Linked DNA regions of Homo sapiens: region 1 is linked to region 2. A link means that fine-mapping ties the variant in region 2 to the plasma level of a protein whose gene starts in the linked region. Region 2 holds a variant in brackets. A gene starts in the other region. All regions are shown on their reverse strands.

Region 1 (2,905 bases), not on the chromosome of region 2:
TCGAGAACATCCTGGCTAACACGGTGAAACCCCGTCTCTACTAAAAATACAAAAAATTAGCCGGGCGCGGTGGCGGGCGCCTGTAGTCCCAGCTACTCGGGAGGCTGAGGCAGGAGAATGGCGCGAACCCGGGAGGCGGAGCTTGCAGTGAGCCGAGATCGCGCCACTGCACTCCAGCCTGGGCGACAGAGTGAGACTCCGTCTCAAAAAAAACAAAATAAAAAAATAAAATAAAATAAAAAAACAAACAAAAAAACCTGCAAGTCTGCCATGTCATGCCCCCCAGCTTGCAAGCCCTTAATGGCTACCTGTGCCCAGCAGGATCCAGCTCAACATCCTAGGGCTCCCTCTCTGCCGCTGCCTATCTCTTTGGTCACACCGTCTGCCCCTTCAGGAGCGCTGAAGCCATTGGCTTTCAAAACTGGGCACATGTGCTCTCTTGCCCATCCCTCTGTGCCCCTCATTGCTCTTCTCTACCTGACTCAGATACTGCTGTCTCTGGCCCACCTCAACTCTCGAATCCAGTCGGATCCTCCTTGGTAAAACTCCCTACCAAGCTCGGCTTGGCAGGGAGGGCAGCTCTTTGGGTACACAGCTTGGGCTGGGAGTGGGTGGGGAGGCCCGGGGAGTTTATTCCTACCCCAGGCTGCCCTGATATCAGAGTCCTTAGTCGAGTCACCCATGGCTGCTGACCGCTGACCGACCACCCCCCACGTGGGAATGGAGGGCCTGCCTTAGGCATCAGACAGTCCTGGGTTCTCCTTCAGCCTCCCGCACTCGCGCTGGAGGCCCCCGGGCACTAAGTGACTGAACTTTTCGGGGCCTCAGGTCCCTCATCTCTGCCGCCGGCGCGAAGACAGCCGCAGGGACAAGCGCGCTTGTCCTCCCCCACCCTTGCCGGGCCAGCCTGGGGGGAGGTGCGAATCAATGGGTCCCGAGGGTAGCTGCACAGGGCCAGCCTGCCCCCGCCTCGGTGGGCAATGAGTAACCAGCTCCGCGGCCGGGGTGCTCTTTGGACGGAGCGGGACAAAAGGCCCTGTGTGCACTGCGGGTTACTGATTTACCGCCCCCTCCACCCCCTGCCGCCCGGCGGACGCCCAGGTCCCCTGCGCCGGGAGGGGCAGTCCCCGTAGCCCCGCCGCCTCTCGCCCCCTGGCGGCTGGGAGCGCAGCCCGGGCCCACAAGGGTTCCGGCTCACCTCGAGCCTGCGTGACTCCGCGCCCAGCACAGGGTCCTGCTCACCTGGCTCCTCCTCACCTGGCTCCTCCGCCGCCTCACTCCCAGCTCCAGCCGGCCGCGACCCCTGCACGCGGCAGGGTCCGCAGACAGCCCGAGCGCTCCTCGGCCGGGAGCGAGGAATGTACCCGCGACGGCGGCGTGGCCGCGAGCGGCCCACCTCCTGTCCCACCCCGCCCCTCGGGCCCGCCCCCTCCTGCTCGGGCCCGCCCCTCCTTCCACGCCCCCCCCCCCCCCACCCGGGCCCGCCCACCTCCTGCCACACCCCCTCGGGCCCGCCCCGCCTAGACCAGCTCGAGCCGGAGAGAGGTGTGGCCAGGGGTGGCCAAGATCCCCGCCCACCTGGAGAGCCCCGCCCCCGACCCAGTCAGCCCACTCCCGGGACCCCGCCCCAGCCTATACACACACCCCTACACGCAACCCCCCTATACACACCCCATTCAGGCTCCGCCTCTTTCGCCCCACCCAGGCCCCAGGCCAGGCTCCTAAATTCTAGTCTACTACCCAGCTCTACTCCTTGCTTTTCACCCTTCAGGGAATGCCTGGCTCCCCTGTCTTCTGCGCAGTGCCGTGCAGCGGATAGGAGAACCCCTTCCTTCTGCTCCCTCATTTGTTCCCTGCGCAACCTGCGGAGTGATACTTACAACACAAATCTGACTGTGTCAGCCACTCCCTTAAATTTTCCTATAGATTCCCATAGCTCTTTATACATAGATTGCCATGACCCACGCCTCCTGGCTCCCACCCTGCTACTCCTGGGCAGTTTCACGTACCATTCTCTCTTCCTGGAATGGCCCTTGGTCTGGTTAATTTCATATTATTCTCAGCTCACTTCCTTCAGGAAGCCCTCTGGACTTGCAAGCTCCTCTTAGATGACGTCTCTACTGTGAGGATGGAGAAAGAAACAGGGTGAAGTGGTTCAGAGCACAGACTACAGGGCTGGACGTCATAGGCCCAGCTCTCAGCACCATCACACAAGGCCTCAGTCTTCACTGTCCTTTCAGTAAAACAGGCAAATGATAGTCTCACCCACAAGAGGTTGTTGCAAAAAGTAGACATGTTAGCAGTATGTGTAAGCCTGGCATGCAGCGCTTGCTTTGTAATACTAGCTGTAATTATTTAGGACCTGTTATTTCTTCAGCACGCTTGCCAGAATTGTAACTGAACAGTTAATTATGTAAATAGCTGTGGAATGGCCGGGCACAATGACGGGTGCCTGTAGTTCTAGTTACTAGGAGACTGAGGTAGGAGGACAGCTTGAATTCAGGAGTGTGAGGCCAGCCCTGGCAACATAGTTGCCCTGTCTCTATTTTTCAGTAGAGGAACTGTGTCCTCAGACCTCACCATTAGAGTTCAAGTGTCTGGCATACAGTAGGTGCTCCCAGATAGCTCCGTGCCCACCTGGCTCATGTTTGCCTCACCTGTAAGCACTTCTCTCCTGAGCATCTAGACTGTGGCCAAACCAGGAGGCCAGGCAGCCTCTGATCTCTGCCCATCCCTCACCTGAATCTCAAGCCTTCTCCTTCTCTTAAGGCACCTTGAGAGGAAGGGAAATGGGCTGGGTGCACCTGTGGTCCCAGCTACTTGGGAGGCTGAGGCCAGAGGATTGCTTGAGCCCAGGAAGTCGAGGCAGCAGTGAGCCGTGATCGCTCCACTGCACTGTAGCCTG
Region 2 (2,905 bases):
TGGCCTTTGAACAGCCTAGAAGAGGCAGTTGCTGAGCTGGGCCTCCCACTTGTGGTCTGCGGACTAAACGTTTGCCTGTCTGGGGGCGGGGGCTGTGGAGGCTTCACCTGAGGCTTGGTAAGAAGATGTTCAAATGGGAGAGGAGGTGAGCAGGGCCAAGACAAGCGTGTTGTCAGGATAAGGAATGCTGGGCTTCTCTGAACTTGAGTCCAGGCTCTGCTGTGTGACCCTGGGCAAGTTTCTTGTCCTCTCTGAGCCTCAGTCTCATATTCATTGTTATTTTTGAAACAACAGCTTTATTGATATATAACTCATATACATCTTGCCCATCTAAAGTATTTAATTCAGTGGTTTTTAGTATATTTACATAGTTGTAAAGCCATCACTAAATTTAGAACGTTTTTATCACCCCAGAAAGAAACGCTGTACCCATTAACAGTTGCTCCTTGTTTCTCCACAATCCCTGCAGGCATAGGCTGTCACTAATCTATTTTCTGTCTGTATGGATTTGCCTATCCCAGACATTTCATATAAATGGAATAATATAATATGTGGTCTTTTGTGGCCAATTTCTTTCACTTAACATAATGGTTTCAAGGTTCATCCACACTGTAGTATCAGTATTAGTTCATTTGTTTATTTTTGAGACTGAGTTTTGCTCTTGTTGCCCAGGCTGGGGTGCAATGGCATGATCTCGGCTCCCTGCAACCTCTGCCTCCCAGGTTCAAGCAATTCTGCCTCAGCCTCCCAAATAGCTGGGACTACAGGCACGTGCCACCACACCTTGCTAATTTTGTATTTTTAGTAGAGATGGGGTTTTACCATGTTGCCCAGGCTGGTCTCGAACTCCTGACCTCAGGTGACCCTCCCACCTCGGCCTCCCAAAGTGTTGGGATTACAGGTGTGAGCCACCATGCCCAGCCTCAGTATTAGTTTTTTTTTCTTTTGCCAAATAATATTCCATTGTATGAACATACCACATTTTATTTATTCATTCATCAGCTGATGGATATTTGGGTGGTTTCAATCTTTTGGCTATTATGAATAATGCTACCTTTTTTGGTGTGTGGACATATATATTTTCATTTTTCTTGAATATATACCCTAGGAGTAGAATTACTGAGTCATATGGAAACTCCATTTAACATTTTGAGAGACTGCCAGCCTCTTTCCTAAAGCGGCTGTGCTGTTTTACATTCCCACCAGTGGTGTGTGAGGGTTCCGATTTCCCCACGTCCTCGCCAACGCTTGTGATTATCTGACTTTTTGATCACATTCATTCTTGCATCCATTCATCCCTCAAGTATTTATAGAACATCTATATTCAACAAGGCAGAAGGCCCACTGCAGAGCTGGGAAGGGAATTTATCCCTTGAAGAGTTGTTTAGAAGATTCCATGGCATAATATCTAGAACAACCCCCACCAAGCTCAGCACATAGTAGATGCTCAGAGACGGGAGACAGGGAGCATCAAGGAGAGGATCTGGGGGTGGTCAGCAACCATGGGGCCCCCGGGAATGGAGGAAAAGAGGATGGAATTTGTACGTGCTGACCACGTACTGTGTGTGGGAACC[A/G]GTGCTTCAGTCCTTATGACCCTCTGGGCCATATCATTGTTCCATTTGCAGATGGTGGAACTGAGGCTCAAGCCAAGCAGCTTGTTCTGGGTCACTAGGCTGAGAAGTAGTCAGACTGTGGGCTGAGAGCCTTGTTTGGATCATCTTATTTAATCCTCCCAACCCCTGAGGTCAGTCCTATTACTATACCCATTTAGTAGGTGAAGAAACTGAGGCTCAGAGAGGTAGACTGACTTGCCCAGAGTCGCGTAGCTGGTGAAGTTCTGTCCTGGGATTTGGAGCCACATAGTCGAGCATCAGAGTCCCTGCTGTGTCTCCCAGGCCTCTGGAGGGGAGGGTGAGGGCTTGGACATGTCTGCTCCCTCCTTCCCTCCCTTTCTCACCCCACTGTGTCCCACAGAGCCTCATCTTGGGTTGGAGACAGTCCTGGGGCAAGTGTGGCCCTAGGCTGGCTTTTGAGGGCCCTGCCAACCCTTCTTCCAGCCTTTTTGTCTGATGCCTTGCTCTGTGCCTCAGTTTCCCATCTGGGTGATGGTGGTGGTGACTTCCAAGGCTGCTGTGGCTCAGATCATCTGAGTCTGGCTTGTTCTGTCCCTAGAAGAGGAGCAGCCGAGAAGCCAGTGGGACTGCTCCAGGCTGGGGGCGGGGAGTGGCATCTCCACTGTGTGTGAGTTTGGGCTGGTTATAAATAACCCAGCAAACAGGAGGGTGCGGGGAACCACAGCCCGCCTCCTCAGGAGGAGAGGCCTGGACACACACACACATTCTTACAGACAGGGCCGTTTCAGTTATGTGTGTGTGTGTGCTGTGTGTGCCCAGGGTGTATGCTCAGCATGTGTGTGGGGAGGGCTTTGGGGAGCCGTCAGAGCTGTGCAGGCTCCCGGGACAGCTGGAAGGTCTGGGCCTGCTCAGGCTGACTCCAGCAGGTTCTCTTCAGTTCCCTGGAGGAGGCTGGGGTCAGCCCAGCAGAGCTCTAGGGCTGGCGAGGTCCCTGGAGCCCCCTCACCTGGCTTCAAGTGATTCCAAGGTCAGGCTGAGGATCCTTCTGCTCTTAGGGGCCTCCATGTGCTCCTCCAGCCCCTTCCCACTGCCACGTCCCACCCTGCCTGCTCTCCCTGTCCCTGCTCCAGTCCTGAATCCCATCCTGACTCTCCGGCTGAGCTCACTGACCTCTAGCAAGTCGCCTGGGCTTTCTGCCTCTGTGGAGTAAGGAGGCCCATTTCACTGGCTCCTGAGAAGGTAGAGTCCAGTGCTTAGTGTGTGCTCAGTGAAGGCTGCTTTCTTCCAGTCCTGGTTGAGAAATGGCCAGAATGTATGCTCCACTGGGAGCC

Alleles and levels. Alleles are on the strand shown, and positions count from the first base shown. The strength of an association depends on the size of the effect and on how common the allele is.
For the plasma level of the protein whose gene starts at base 1,361 in region 1, allele A in region 2 goes with a higher level than allele G (weak association).

What was found. A credible set is the group of variants that fine-mapping cannot tell apart. PIP is the posterior inclusion probability: the model's chance that the variant is causal. Protein levels are from antibody-based Olink assays in UK Biobank. Linkage for the fine-mapping came from a reference panel and not from the study's own genotypes, which makes the PIPs less certain.
Region 1: it holds the start of FGFR4, and the variant in region 2 is the best candidate, but not a certain one, in a credible set for the plasma level of the FGFR4 protein (UK Biobank, PIP 0.51).

The regions. Positions count from the first base shown.
Region 1 is chr5:177,085,371-177,088,275 of GRCh38, reverse strand. FGFR4 (fibroblast growth factor receptor 4) reads right to left here and starts at 1,361. Exons shown (of 18, transcript NM_213647.3): 1 at 1,199-1,361. RefSeq lists an enhancer at 845-1,295, silencers at 991-1,450, 1,701-1,750 and a promoter at 1,261-1,480.
Region 2 is chr1:30,888,047-30,890,951 of GRCh38, reverse strand. The region is part of intron 1 of SDC3 (syndecan 3); the gene reads left to right. Among named protein-coding and RNA genes, the nearest start is that of SDC3, 19 kb to the left of the region's middle. RefSeq lists enhancers at 1-92, 2,184-2,243, 2,424-2,483. The variant A/G (reference allele first, on the strand shown) is at 1,575.